Linked DNA regions of Homo sapiens: region 1 is linked to region 2. Evidence: fine-mapped expression QTL. Tissue or cell type: whole blood. Region 2 holds a variant in brackets; the other region holds the start of a gene. All regions are shown on one strand. Distances are from middle to middle.

Region 1 (8,166 bases), 46 kb after region 2:
GCCACTAAAATAGTATTTCTGAAAAATGGCAGATTGACTCCATGATTCTATTTCAACATCTTCTTCCCCTAACCACATTAAATTCACAGTAAAGGAGTATAAAAAGGTAAAAATACAAAAGAGCTAAGATAGAGAAAAGAATGGGAAACTAAAACATTCAAGAGAATTTATAAAATTTTTATAAAATTGAAGAGATGGAGGAGTGATAATTGACTTAAGAGAACAGAGGCACTACCTGAGTTCTGCAGAGACCAAATAGAAGTAAGGTATTAATATTTGCTATACAGAATCCCAAAACGGACAAGGCCTTGGGAACTATGGAGCTATGGAATCAGAGTAAGTAGTTGGGCTAAAAGCAGAGGATTAGATAACAATACCTAAGTATATCATTAGATACTCACCAACATAAGTGCTGTTACATATATGTGCACCTGTGCCTGCTTCCAGAAGACTACTACACCTCCCATCTCTATTTTTTGTAGACGCTCAACAGCATCAGAGAAAAAGAGGTATAAAATACTGACATTTGGATGTTACACTAATAAGAAGCCCATAATACTCACCAACATAAGTGGTGTTACATATATGTGCACATGTGCCTGCTGCCAGAAGACTACTGCACCTCTCATCTCTCCTATTTTTTGTAGACGCTCAACAGCATCAGAGAAAAAGAGCTGTAAAATACTGACATTTGGATGTTACACTAATAAGAAGCCCTTTCGTGCAGATGAAAGGACATGTTATGCACAGACACCCTCTGAGAGGTTCTCAAGTAAGAGACAGGTAACAACCACAGATATGTGAGGAAAACCTCCAAAATGAAAGCAAGAGCTTATAAAATCAAACAGAAATAAAAAAGAACCTGGAAGAAACAAAGCAATGCACAGAGAAGGCCAAAGTTATAATTTATATCCTTAGAAGGCAAAACAAAGTTATAATTTATATCCTTACAGCAAAAAGAGAAAATATAGCAGCCATATAGAAAGCAAAATAGAATGCTATAACTCATCAACAACAGAGAACACAAAGTCGCTCTTTGAATTAAAAAAGTAGAATAGCAGAAATAAAAAAATTCAGTAGGAAGGTTGGAAGATAAAGCCCAGGATATCTGCTATAAAAACAAATAAACAGATGAAAATATTTTTTAAAACCGAAATATAAGAATGATTAGAATTAGATTAGGATCTGTCAGGAAATTTAACTTCAAAGAAACAGCATTTCCAGAAAAAGAGAATAGAAAGAGGGAGAAGAGAAAAATCATCAAAGAAACAATAGAAGAAAATTACACAGAATTTTTTAGACACGGATTTCCATATTGAAAGGCCTCTTAAGAACCTAGCACAATCAGTGAAAAAATACACATCCCGAAGCTCATTACTGTGAAAATTTCAAGCACCAGGGATAAACAGATCATAAAAGTTTTCAGAGAGGGAAATACAAAAGGCATGACAATCAGAAAGTAGGACTAGAGGCTAGGGAAGCATAAGACACAGGACTTTAACATTATTTGACTTCTAAAACAATGAACAGAAATTTTTATAAACACTAAGCAATAATAACTGCACAAAAGTACAAAATAAATAAACGAATAAAAAATAATTTTTTTTTTTGAGATGGAGTTTCGCTCTTGTCACCCAGGCTGGGGTGCAGAGGTGTGATTTCGGCTCACTGCAACCTCTGTCTCCCAGGTTCAAGTGATTCTCCTACCTCAGCCTTGCCAGTAGCTGGGATTACAAGCGCCCAACACCACACCCGGCTGATTTTTGTATTTTTAGTAGAGACGAGGTTTCGCCATGTTGGCCAGGCTTGTCTCGAACTCCTGACCTCAGGTGATCTGCTTGCCTCGACCTCCCAAAGTGCTGGGATTACAGGCGTGAGCCACCACGCTCAGCCAAAAAATAAATTTATTTAATGTTCTTTAGTAGTACCATTGTTTTAAATATACTGTGTTAACTCATTTAACTCTCATAACACCCCAGGAGACTATTAGCCTCATTTCACAGGTGAGGAAACAGGCATTGACAGGTCAAGTAATTTCTCCATAATGACACAAGTAGCAAGTCGTGGAGCCAAAGTTCTAGCTTTCTGAACGTGGTCTTTTTAAAAACTGCAAGATAACATCTCTCAACTGTAAAAGTAAAATTAATTTTAAGAAAGAAAAGAAAATACTACTTGAATTCCCTACCTTGCTGATCTGTTCCTAGACCAACTATGGTTAATTAAAAGTTCTGCCATCATGAAAAACGCTATGCTCCTTGCCAAGCCACAAAAGTGGATGTGTATTTGTGAAGGGGGAGGGGGTGGAGATTTGAGGGTATTTCCTAGTATTTTGAATATTCATGTGTAAAAGGACTTTATGTTATGTGCTTGTGATCTGCTGCTAGATAGTCCATAAAGCAGATTCCGTAACCTAATTGCATTGACAACCTCCACCAAAGGAAATGATGCACTTACATCAGATCACCACTGCGTATTAAGAACAAAGCCTATAAAAATTGCATTAGAAACAGCATAGCTCTCTGTTTTCTAAATTATTTTCATCTACGCCGTTCACATTCTTCGAGCCTTGCAAGGAAAATCTCCTTAATTTTCCTAGTCATTTACATGACTATTAAATATACTGATGCGACAAAAAAAATCACGCTCCTTTACTCACTGTTGCCTTTCACACATCTTTACCTTGTATTATTAACTACATAATGACAGTTGAACATTTTCACGTGACTTTCTTCTGTAGGAGTTTGTGTCATTCACAGCCTCCTACATTTGCTATCCTATCCATTTTGTGTTTTATCGTTACCTACTAACGGGATTCTGGCTTTAGTGGGGGAAGGAAAAAGAGAGAAATACTTATGTCTCTTTTTGAACAATTTTTTATTTCTTTTCAGACCTGGTAACATCAACATTCCCTGGGTATGATAAGGGCGTTAGCATGCAGGTTTAGCATTTCCTTTCTTGGGACTAATAAATTCTCATATGCTAAAGTAGTGGCTTTTGAGATCTCAGACCGCTGCTTCGAAACTCATTCTAATGCAACAGACCTCCTGGGTCATTAGCTGTCGCCCCGCGCAATCTAGGAGTTCCTTTTTCCCACACCTACAGCGGTCCACTTTCTGCCTGTCATGGCCTTCATTTCTGAATCTTTTTTTGTAAGAGGGGGAGGGGTGTTGGTTTTGGGTTTGGATTGATACTTGGTAGCTGCAGCCACCTTTAAGGTCCTGATGCATCAGGGACAGCATCACTGGTCTTCCCAATACGTGGGTGACCGGATCCTAGGCTGTCCGGCCTAGGTGTCAGCCTCGCTCACGGGAAGTTCCTCACCCGCGGCCACAGCGCTTGCACCGTCCCCACAGCCTCCAGGGTCCTGCGTACCCGGCACGAAGGTCACATCCCCCGCGCAGGTGTGACGCGCGCTCGCGCACTCACCGTCTCCTTGGCAGCCGCCACTGGGATGGGCAGCATCCCCCGGCCGCGGGGCGGGTCCTCGGGCTCCGTGGCCGCGCTCTTTGAGGGTCGCCCGGTCGCCGGCGAGCCGGCCCTGGGGTCCCCGTACAGCTGGTAGCATACCAGGCCGACCAGCCCCCCGCCGGCCGCCGCCGCCACGCTCAGCTCCCCCCAGCGCCGCCGCCGCCTCCATGCCGCCTCCGCCACAGCCCTCTCCTCATCCTCTCGGGAGGAGAAGGGCCGGCCAGGAAGGCCCAGGGTGGTCACCGCAGGCCGCCCCCACGGCCCAAGGAGGGGCTGGTGAGCGCAGAGTGGAGGAGACACCCGGGGTGGCGGCCACAAGAGCCTTCGCAGCGCAGCCATAGCGGAGGCCGCCCACACCAGAGCTGGGAGGGGGCAGAGAACGGAGGGGCGGGGGCGGGGGGGGGGGTCGCCGAAATCTCGCGAGAAGTCGGTGCCGCGAGCTTCGCGGCCGGCCGAGAGCGACCCCTACACTCGCGCGGCCCCGGGGACCCGCGACGCCACCTTCAGCGTAGCGGTCCCGTGGTTCGGCCCGGGAAGATCATGGAAGAGGCGGCGGATCCCGGCTGCTCCCCGGCCCCGAACCCCCAGCCCAACCACGCAGTCATAAATAACCGCGCCAGCCCGGCGACACCTGGCTACGCGACAGCGCGACACTGCGGGCACAGCCGAGTCAGCGTAACTGAGGCGCGGCCGAGTGCGGGGCTCTCTGGGGCCCGCGCCGCTGCTACGGGCGGGGTGGGTCTCCGAGCTGGGCTCAGCGCCCGTCTGGGACACTCACATTCCCTAACGGTCTCCTGACCTCAGGAAACTCAAGGTCTTGACTCAAGGTCGTGAACGATTTGCAATTGTATCTTCACATATACGACACAAATGAGGTATAAGCATTTGGCTCAAGTCATAACGATTGCAAATTAAGGCAAACACTTTGACGACTGAAGGGCAGCTTCCGGACTTTTGATGGGAGAAGGCTAATGCTGTTTTTTAGAAGCATTAGCACACCCGCGGTCACTTAATTCAACAAATCAGAACTGTCTTGTGCATATAAAAGTTAAAAATTTTAAAACTTCTGTGAATAAAGATAAAATCTTGAACGATACCCTGATTTTTCAGGGAAGCGCTGTTTGTATAAATATAAAATAAATGAGAAGCGTATTGTGTCATCTTTTTGTTTTTACTGTACTTTTTGTTTGCTATGTTATCAGTATCAGTTTTTATGAGAAAGTGTAGATGAAGTTCCTATCAGTTTCTCTCCCCAGACCCCAGTTTTGGTAACTTGAATTATGTTAGCTTTTTCTTCCTACTATGGAATGGTGCCAGGAGTCCCTAAAATATTGTGGATCTAAGGGGACAGACAACTAAATACAGTGGTCTCAATTGGGCTGCAGTGACAAGAGAATACACCATCAGTTGATTCTGGCAATTCTTGTAAAGACTAAAGGCTTTCAGAGACGACCAAATGAGTTTTTTCTGGCTCAGGTCCTACAATTTCTTCCCTTTTTTTTTTCTTTTTTTGAGACGGAGTCTTGCTCTGTTGCCCAGGCTAGAGTGCAGTGGCACATTCTCGGCTCACTGCAACGTCCGTCTCCCTGGTTCAAGCGATTCTCCTGCCTCAGCCTCCCGAGTAGCTGGGATTACAGGCACCCGCCACCGTGCCTGGCTAATTTTTGTGTTTTTAGTAGAGATGGGGGTCTCACCATCTTGGCCTGGCTGGCCTCGAACTCCTGGAGGTCCTGCAATTTCTATTCCTAACACCTTGCATGTAAATAGCACATCAGGTACACCCTGTTACCTCTTATTTTAATAGAGGTTAATGGCATTTTGCTTTCTTAAAGCTGCTAAAAGCGGTAAGAAGAAAAATCTTCTGTAGCAGATGAACAAATTTTGTGTATTTTAAAACCTGTCTCTGAGTTTTCTTCAGTTTCAGCCTGTGGGTTTTATGGAGTCAATGCCTAAGGAAGACTCTGATAGCGTCTTGCTTTATCACCAAATTTTCCTCAATTTATGCTTTCTCTATATTCTGTGAAATGGTAGTTTCCCCAAATAAATTATCTTCTGGGTAATAATTATATATATTATATATAATATAATAATCATATTGGCCGGGCGTGGTGGCTCACACTTGTAATCCCAGCACTTTGGGAGGCCGAGGCGGGTGGATCATGAGGTCAGGAGATAGAGCCCATCCTGGCTAACACGGTGAAACCCCATCTCTACTAAAAATACAAAAAACTTAAAAAAAAAAAAGCCAGGTGTGGTGGCATGCGCCTGTAGTCCCAACTACTCAGGAGCCTGGGACAGGAGAACTGTTTGAACCCGGGAGGTGGAGGTTTCAGTGAGCCGAGACTGTGCCGCTGCACTCCAGCGTGGGTGACAGAGCGAAACTCTGTCTCAAAAAAAAAAAATTATAATAATAGTTCTGACACTGTTTACTTTGAACTGAACATGATTTCCTGATTTTCTCATAAATTCTTATTATAGTCTAATGCCAGAATTCTTGGACAAACTGATCAATTTTTACTAGTTGCATGTTAAAAGCTAAGTAGTTCTAAAGAAGATTAGGGAGGTAATACAATAACATCACATTACAGATGAGGAAAATGACATCCTTCATCTAAGATGACAAATACAGACACATACGTATAGATTTCTATGTAGTTTCTCTATAGTTTTCTAAATTTGATAGAGCTCCTGCAAACAATTTATCTGGTTAGAAGCTAAGTACTGCTGTGAGAAGGGCTAAGTTTATGTTTGTAGATCAGTCAGAGAACTTTGGATAAAATACCTCTCACGTGCAAAAACAGCTTTACTAATAATTTTCAACAGTACTTTCCCTCTAAAGGTGAAATTTCCTTAAGAATAGTTACTGTTTTCTTCCCACGTTTGATGCTCTGTAACTATAGCTACACAAAAATAACCAAATTCCCTTGTTATGTGGATATTTTTCTGAGTTTAATTCCCAGAGGAAAAATTTTAAGAAAATATGATATTAGGAATTTGGAACCTTTTTTTTTTGAAATTTCAGGTAATATTGTTGGATCAATATAGAGTCAACCCAGTATCCCTTATCTTTTATGTCAATTCTACTGAGCATTAAGAATAACCCCCAAAATGCCCCTACTCCACAGTGAGAGCCCACACCTTGAAAGAAATATCCACTTATCGTTCACTATGGTCTAAATAAAAAGAAATGTTCTGAAACAATAAAAATGTTTCAAACAATGGGGATTAAGCCAAAAAGGGTTTTCCAGGAAAGCATATACCTCAGTGAATAAGTAATAAATTAGAAGTGAAGAAATCTGGACTCCAGTCTTGGATTTGCTGCATCTTAATTATAATGCTTTGGAAGCCACAGTCTCTAAAATAGTGGAGTTGAAATAGATGATCACCCCTGAACCCATCTTTCTAATGAACTAAAATGCTCCAAGTGTATCAGTAAACCATAGAAAGATACTTCATGGTATTTTTCATGTATCATTTCTCTTCTGAAAATCTACAATTGGCCTAAGATTGTTTTATTCTTTCAACTTAAAATTCCATCCCCGGACCACGCAGGCTAACGTCTGTAATCCCAGCACTTTGGGAGGCCAAGGTGAGTTGATCACTCAGGAGTTCGAGACCAACCTGGGCAATATGGCAAAACTTCGTCTCTACAAAAAATACAAAAATTAGCCAGGCATAGTGGTGCGTGCTTATGGTCCCAGCTACTCGGGAGGCTGAAATAGGAGGATGGCTTGAACCGGGGAAAAGGAGGTTGCAGTAAGCCATCACTGAGCCACTGCACTCTAGCCTGGGTGAGAGAGCAAGACTATGTTTAAAAAAAAAAAAATCCATTCCTTTATCTAATTATTTTAACCTTCTACTGCATTTAAAATTGCAAATACGTTAGTGATTTTGAAAAGTTTGAAAAAGTGGAATATAAGTGCAATAGGCAGGAATGTCTTGTTTAACAAAACTTCTATTAAAATATACTGCATTCCTTATTTTGGTCATTCTGAGCTCCAGATTCTTGACTAGTTAAAAGAGCAGCAGTTACATCTGAGATCTGTATCAGGGCACATGAACCACCCCATCCCCAGGTCCACTCAAGTCTACCAGCAGAGAGCAAGGTTGCAACCATCTTCTTCTCTCTTGGGAAAGTTGTCATCATTTTCTCAAATTGCCTTCCACCTTCCATGCTGTCTTCCTTAGGGCAAAACTGACATAGGAGACAGTGTTGGGGAAGGTATGTTCTTGCTCTGTTTTCTTCAAAGTGCTACCCACCAGCAATCTAGAACTCAATTCCTCAGCATCCAGGGCTATGGAAACCAAGTTACACAAGACACTGAGGGTCTGTTTTCTGTTTTGATGAGCTCTCATTCCCAAAGACTGTGATCTGTATCTCACCCTTTTTCCATTAGGCAAAGCCAAGCTGACTCTAAGCAACATGAGGCCAGGGTATGCATCTTCTAGCCCAGTTCCTGGCACACATTAGGACCTCAATTATATTTACTAAATGAAAAGCAATGTCTTGAAAAGGGGGGAAGGTGGAGGTCAACATAGGAAGGCAAGTTAGGTGACAAGGAAATACAATGGCCCATCAGACACTAAACAAGCTGACAAACCAAGCAGCACATCAATGAGGAAATGCAATCAACACAGATGGGAGGCCAAAGGGAAAAAGCAAGGGACTGGCAAAGAAGGATCACAGATAGAGTGTGG
Region 2 (8,000 bases):
TAATTGTGAAGAAAAATGATTAAAAGACGGTGAGATAACTTGAAATAATTTGAAACAACAAAGTTAGTCTGCTTAGAAACACATTAGACAAACACAGAACCCACTTCTATTTTCAGATCTGACACCCACTCCTCAGAGCATGTGGCTCCCCAATAGTTTAAGCATCACCTGAGAGCTTGTGCGAAATGCAGAATCTCAGTGCCCATCCCAGACCTACTGAACCACAACCTGCATTTTTAACAACATCTTCTAATTTTTACACACATTGAAGTTTGGAAGGCATTTCAGACAAACCATTTCTGACGCAGCTGTACCTAAAAATGCTTTCTGACATTTATAAATCATTTTTGTTTAACTGCAAAGCTGAGCTAGCAGGAAGAAAAATTCTTGGTATGTCAAAGGCAGGAACAGCATTTTTAGGGGATTTATGGACACCTTGAAGCCCATATGTGGATTCTTGTGTTTGTGTTTTTCATGTTTCTGTATCTGCACTGCAGGTAAAAGATGCCAGCAGATAATCAGTGCATCTGATTATAGAATAGGAATGGCACAGAATAATTCAGGTCCGAATTGTAATGAGAAACTGGGATGTTTATTGTTTAGACAACAGTAAACTCAAATATTTTTGTTAGATTGAGAGATTAAATAAAACATTCTGGGTGGGACTCAGTGGCTCAGGCCTATAATCTCAGCACTTTGGGAGGCTGAGGTGGGTAGATCCCTTGAATCCAAGAGTTTTAGACCAGCCTGGGCAACATGGCAAAACCCCATTTCACAAACAAACAAACAGACAAACAATTAGCTGGGCATGGTGGCGTTCATCTATAGTCCCAGCTTACTCAGGAGGCTGAGGTGGAAAAATCACTTGAGCCCAGGAAGTCGAGGCTATAGTGAGCCATGATCACACCACTGCACTCCAGCCTAGGCAAACAGAGTGAGACCTGTCTCAAAAAAATATAAAAAAACTTAAAAAACAACATTCTGAATAAATTTTACATAGCTTAATTTATACCATCTCTATTGTAACTGTATAAATATTAACTAATCTTTCTCCATTTTAACTGTTTCCATGTCTTCCAACCTCATCTGTTCTAACTTAAACTCAGCTACAGTGTAAGACTGAAAAATCAAAGCTAGCTTTTATTGGGTGCCCTCTATGGGTTTGACAATAGGCTCATATAATAACTTCATTCTAAAAACAATCCTCATTATGCATATTTTACTGAGACTTAAAGTGGATAAGTAACACCCAAGGTCACAGAACTAATAAATGACAGAGCCCAGATCCTTACTGACACCAAGTAGCTTATTTTAGTAATAATCTAGTTTCTCCCGGTCTAAATCATCCAATCAACACATTCATCTTGACTTCTCTGTTAACTTTAAGGACCTCTAAAATTTATTAAATTTTTTATATTTCCACCCATGTCAGGAATCTCTCTCCCTCCTCCAAACTCCTAGCTTGGTTTCGTATGTAGCAGTGCCATATTATAAAGAATTTGGCCTTTGTCCCTGGGTCCTAGGAAGCAGACTCTAAATCCTTGGTTCATACCCGAGTTTATGCTAAGGAGATGACTCAGGAGGGGAACTGCTTACCAGAAAGAATAACTGTGATTACAGAGTTGGGGCTTTAGTGAGCTTGACCTCTGGGGAGAAGAGAGAGGCTACAGATTAAGTTCAATCACACAGCCAATAATTCAATCATGCCTATGTAATGAAACCCTAATAAAAATTCTAAGCACTAAGCTCAGAGGAGCTTTCTGGTTGTTGAACACGCTGCTGTGCTAGGACGGTGACACACCCCAACTCCATGTTCTCAAAGAAGGCATAGAAGCTCTGTGTTCAGGACCTTCCCAGACCTTGCCCTCTCTCTTCATCTGGCTGGTCTTACTCTGTATTCTATCTAATAAAACCATAACCATAGGTACTGCATTTTCTGAGTTCTATGATTCATTATAGCAAATCATTAAACCTGAGGGGAGCTGTGGCAACCTCCTAGACTTGTAGACAGTAAGGTCAGAGTGTGGGTGGCCTGGAGCCCCGAAACTTGCAACAAGCATCTGAAATGAGGGCAGTCTTGTTAGGCACCATGCTTAAACTCGGAGTGGTTAGCGTCAGAATTAAATTGTAGGTAGAAAATAAATATTTGCTGAATTAAAGTCAGTCTCCTAGAATTATAGTTGCCTTTTAAAAGAGTTACGTAATTTTCTTAAATAAGTACTATTAAAAAAATTATAGTTAATAGATATATATTATAGAAAAATTAGTAAGTACAGAAAATAAAAACTAATTGTAATCCAGGGATGACAAACTTAAGTTTTAGACTAAAGTTAATTGTCTCTAGGGGTGGCAAGTTAAACACACACACACACACACACACACACACACACACACACACACACGTTTTAACATCATTTTAGTCTGATTCTCCAGCTAGGCATATTTCTATAGTATTTTTGTTGTTGCTGCAAATATTAAATCATTCTCTACATACTGTTTTATAATTTACCCTTTACATTTAATATATTATAGTGAGCATATTTTCCTGTCAAATATTCTTCATTTTTATTTTAATGGCTACACAGCAGTTGTCTATAGTAGCAGTTCTGAAAGGAAACTCTTCACATTCTTAAAAATATTATGGACCCAAAAGAGATATTGTCTATATGGGTTATATCTATCAATATTTAATTTATTTGAAAATAAAAACAAATTTTTAAAACACAATAAAACACAAACACACATTCCATTAGTTGGTAGAGCAATGGCATCATTACCAAACAGCCTCTAGAAAATTCCACTATACAGGCTGGGCACGGCAGCTCACACCTGTAATCCCAGCACTTTGGGAGGCCGAGGCGGGCGGATCACGAGGTCAGGAGATGGAGACCACGGTGAAACCCCCTCTCTACTAAAAATAAAAAATAAAAAAAAAAACCAAAAAGAAAAAGAAAACTCCACCATACACTCATGAGAGAATGACAGTGAATAAAACAAGTATCTTCTCAATATTATGATGAAAATAGTTTTGACTTCATGGACCTTTGAAAAGGTATTTGCACTTTAAATGACTGTCAGTTAATATTATTTTGCAACTTGCCCTTTTACTCAACCTTGTTTTCTAGTTCTACTCATGTTAATACACATAGCTATAATGTATTTATTCATTTTCACTCTGTAATTCTACATTTATCCTGGGTTTCTCTATTTCACAAATTTTTCATTCACCTGCCTGATGATTGACATATTGTTCCCAAATTTTTGCTATTACAATTGATGTTCAGGAAACACATATAGCAGCAGTCCCCAACCTTTTTGGCACCAGGGACTGGTTTCTTGGAAGACAATTTTTCCACAGACCAGGAGGGAGGAAGAGGAAATGTTCTGGGGATGATTCAAGTGCATTACATTTATTGTGCACTCTATTTCTATTATTATTACAATGTAACATATAATGAAATAATTATACATCTCATCATAATGTACAATCAGTGGGAGTCCTGAGCTTGTTTTCTTGCAACTAGATGGTCCTATCTGGGGGTGATGGGAGACAGTGACATATCATCAGGCATTAGATTCTCATAAGAAGCACACAACTTAGATCCCTCACATGCCAGTTCACAATAGGGTTTGGGCTCCTATGAGAATCTAATGCTGCCACTGATCTAACAGGAGGCAGAGCTCAGGCAGTAATGTGAGCAATGAGTGATGGAGAGTGGCTGTAAATACAGACGAAGCTTCACGGGAAGGGGGCGATCTGATATATAGGATTTCTGTGGCAAATCTGAAAACATTTCTCTAGTATGCATTTCTACAAGAGGGATTTCTCATATGCATTTTCAACATTATTAGGTATTGCCAAATTTCACTCAAAAGTAAATATACCCCAGCCTGGGTGACAGAGCAAAACCCTGTCTCTACTAAAAATGCAAAAATTAGCTGGGCATGGTGGTGTGTGCCTGTGGTCCCAGCTACTCAGGAGGCTGAGGTAGGGGGATCACTTGAGCCCAGGAGGCAGAAGATGGAGTGAGCCAAGATCGTGCCACTCACTGCACTCCAGCCTGGGTGACAGGGAGAGACTCTATCTCAAAAAAAATTAAAAAGTAAATACACCAGTTTATATTCTGACCTGGTTCCTTCTTGTTCTCCTTGCTAATTATGGGTATTGTCAGATTTCTGGAAGCTCACCATCTGGCGGGTGTCAAATAGTATCGTATCATTGGTTTAATTTGCACACCCTAAGTTACTAGTAAGGTTCACCTCCTTTACATATATTCAGTGGCCATTGTAGGCATATTTGTCTATTTTTTTCTTATTAAGCCATAATCTTTTTTACAAAGATAAAAAAAGGGGTTCTACGTGACTGCAAGACACTTACCCTCTTCTGTTGATATGTTGCATGCATATCCTCCCATCCATCATACATCTTTTAACATTGTTTACACTGTGTTTTGATGCTAAGCTTTCAAATATTTAGTTTAGTAAACATTGCCAATAATTTTGAGTTTTGCTTTGTGTCTTATCTAAAAAAAAAAAAACCTCTCATGCCTCTCATTTTTGCTTTTAATCTTAGAGAATTTTTGTCACAAATAAGAACTTAATCCATCTGAAATTAGTTTTTGTATATGGTAGTAAATCTGAGGCCTAATTTGCCCCCTCCATGGAAAAGTTATTATTCAAACATCTATGATTGAGAGGTCAATCTTTCTGCCACTGATTTACAGATCTACCTATATATACCTGGATCTGTTTCTGGATTCTATATTCTATTACCTTGATCTAGTTTTTAAAAATATCCTTGCAATGATGTAATACT[A/G]CTTTATTTATTATAGCTCTATTTCTAATCTTGATATGTGATCAACCCCATTATTCTCATCTCAATGGTTTTTTTTCCCTCTTTCCTTTTCAGAATTGTTCTAAATATTTTGGGGCCCTTACTCATCCAGATTAATTTTAAAAGTTAATTTCGGATCAATTTGGTTGGGATTTTAATTGGAGTTACATTGAATTTATAGATAGATTTGGAGGATCATTATCATAAGGAAATGGCTTATTACCAGTATGAACATGATACAGTTCTCCATTTACTTGTATTTTTAAAAACATAATTTAATAATGTTTTGTACATCTTCTGTTAGGCATTGCTTTTAAGTACCTAATAGTTCTTGTTTCTATTATGAAATGCATTTTATTCAATACTAGTTTCTAATTGCTCTCGCTGGTGTGGAGCATCTTCTTAACTTTGGTTTATTGCTGTTATATCCAGTAGCAATCTTGCTAAACTTTTATTAAATTTAAACAAATCTAAAATTTATGTATTTTTACATTTTTCTTCCAATCACATTCTATTCTGTGCCTCTATTCTAATCCTTAGAGCCTCTTCTTTTTTTCATACTACATATTATGGTCTCAATTGTGCCCCTCTCCCCGATTCATATGTTGAAGTCCTAAGCCCCAGTACCTCAGAATCTGACTGTTTTGCAGAGAGGACCTTTCTTTAAAGAGGTAATTAGGTTATTATATAAGGTCATCAGGATGAGCCCTAATCCAATATGACTGACGTCCTTATAAGAAGAGATTAGGACACAGACATGCCCAGAGGAAAGACCATGTGAAGACAGAGGAAGAAGATTGCTACCTAAAAGCTAAGGGGAGAGGCCTCAGAAGAAACTAACCTGCTGACACCTGGATCTCAGACTTCAAGCCCCCAGAACCGTGAGAAAATAAATGTCTGGTGTTAAACCCACTCAATCTGTGATATTTTGTCATAGCAGCCCTAGTATACTATACTAGCCCAGACTTCCAGTAAAATGCTATGGAACAGTTGTGACAGCAGGCATATTTGCACTGTACAGTAGTTCCCCCTTATTTGAGGCTTAGCTTTCTACAGTTTCTGTGACCCTCAGTCAACTGCAGTCCAAAAACATTAAATAGAAAGTTCCAAAAATAAACAATTCCTAAGTTTTAAGTTGCGCACTGTTCTGTGTAGCATGATGAAATCTCACACTGTCCAACTCTGTCCTATCCAGGATGTGAATCATCCCTTTACCCAGTATATCCACGCTGTATATGCTACCCACCTGTTAGGCACTTAGTAGTTCTCTCGTCTACCAAACTGAAAAAACATAGTACATATAGGGTTCAGTACTTTCCAAATTTTCAGCATTCATTACCAGGGGTCTTAGAGCATATTACCCACTGATAAACGGGGACTAATATACCTAACTTTAAAGACAATGTCTCTCAAGTTTCACAAATGACCATGACATTTGCTGTAGGCTTTTGGAGGATTCCCTTTAACTAGTTAAGGACGTTCCCTAGATTTCTAATATTCTTTTTTTTAAAAAAAAAAAACATATCTATAAAAATATAAAAGGAATATATATGCAATTTAAAGTTAAGAAATAGTTAACTTAAAAAATAGAAAATTAGCAGTACTTTAAAGCCTCTTTGAGCCCATCACTGATGATATTCCCTGCTATCATCCTGAAGATGAATACTTTCTTGAATTTAATGTTAATTATTCCTTTGTTTTCCCACGTATGAATGTATCCTAAATAATATGATTTCACTTTCTCAGTTTTGGACTTTATACAAATAGAATTATACTTTGTATTTTTGAACTGCTTATTTTCTTTACCATCATGTTTCTGAGACTTATTTAGTTAAAGCACTGTTAAAATTCATTTGTTTTCACTATTGTGTAGTATACTATATGAATATATCAACATTTATTTATGGTATAGTATTGATATATTAAAGTTTTGGGGCCATCATATATAATCTATAAACATTCTTGTGAACCTCTCCTGCATATAAGCAAGAATTTCCCTAGGTATATACACTGGTATATGCTAGATACCAGTGTATTTAGTAGAAATTACTAGATCACAGAGTCTATTCAAGTTCAACTTTACAAGGTACATGCGCATGCACTACTGCAGAATTTAAATGCAGGCATGTATTTACTAGGTATAGGGTAGGCATATCGCCAATTTTAGTAGATAATGCCAAATTGTTTTCCAAAGTGAGTATACCAACACATGAGATTTACCAGTAATCTACATTTTCACCAGCCCTTAGAAACGTCCACCTTTTTATTTTCTGACAATCTGGAGGATAAAAAAAGGAACTCTGATGTGATTTGATTTGCCAAAAAATCATAAAATATATAAAAATACATAATATATTTTATGAAATATATTTTAATTATATATGTATATATGCATGCACATATAAAATTTGTGTATATCTACCAAGAGCTTTAACTCACCTGTTTGGAAAGTGACTTCCAAGTTTTGGCAACTAAAATAAACAAATGTAAGATAATTAGATAATAAATACTTCATGGAATATATATCCATATTTGCTAACCATCTACAACCATAACTCATAACCAAACTTTTATGTCCAAAAGGCAAAGTTTTCTTTTAACCTCAAAATTTGGATCTGTGATATGATCTTATATATGTTATCTATTTGCTTCATATATACTATGCACTGTTCATAGTAAGTATCAGTGATACAGGAAACATTTCTCCACAGCCGTATCATCTTAATTTGGGCTTTCTGGACTAATAAAGTAAGCTAACTTTCTCCATGTTAAACATCTTGTGGGCTTAAAAGCACAAATAATGATACTTATAAAATATTCAAACTAGAATATAAAATAACATTAACATAGATAAACTATAATTTTAAGGTATTACTTGTGATCTTTGCTATACTAGTGTTCCATGACGTAATTCACAGGTCAGGTCTCTCTAGGATGAAGAAGGATTGGGGAAAGAAAAAAAGAAAGGAAAGGGAGGCTAGGCAAAGTGATGGGGAAACTTGTCCTGTTTCATTACTCTTCCCTACAACTATTCAAGAAGCATCACTGGAGTAAGAGTGTTACAGCTGAATAAAATGTCAGGGATCACTTTCTTTTTGTGATTCCTCCTCACACCCCCAAAGATCTCAAACACTGTAAAACTTAAAATGTTGGGACAAATGTATAG

What was found. PIP is the estimated chance that this variant, and not a neighbour inherited with it, causes the effect.
Region 1: MICU3 starts here. The variant in region 2 is fine-mapped to the expression of MICU3 in whole blood (INTERVAL, PIP above 0.99).

Annotation. Positions count from the first base shown.
Region 1 is chr8:17,022,921-17,031,086 of GRCh38, reverse strand. It overlaps MICU3 (mitochondrial calcium uptake family member 3), which reads right to left and starts at 3,849. Exons shown (of 15, transcript NM_181723.3): 1 at 3,427-3,849. The coding sequence starts at 3,807. RefSeq lists an enhancer at 3,222-3,311 and a silencer at 3,462-3,871.
Region 2 is chr8:17,068,993-17,076,992 of GRCh38, reverse strand. It overlaps MICU3 (mitochondrial calcium uptake family member 3), which reads right to left. Exons shown (of 15, transcript NM_181723.3): 3 at 7,274-7,305. Among named protein-coding and RNA genes, the nearest start is that of MICU3, 46 kb to the right of the region's middle. The variant A/G (reference allele first, on the strand shown) is at 4,817.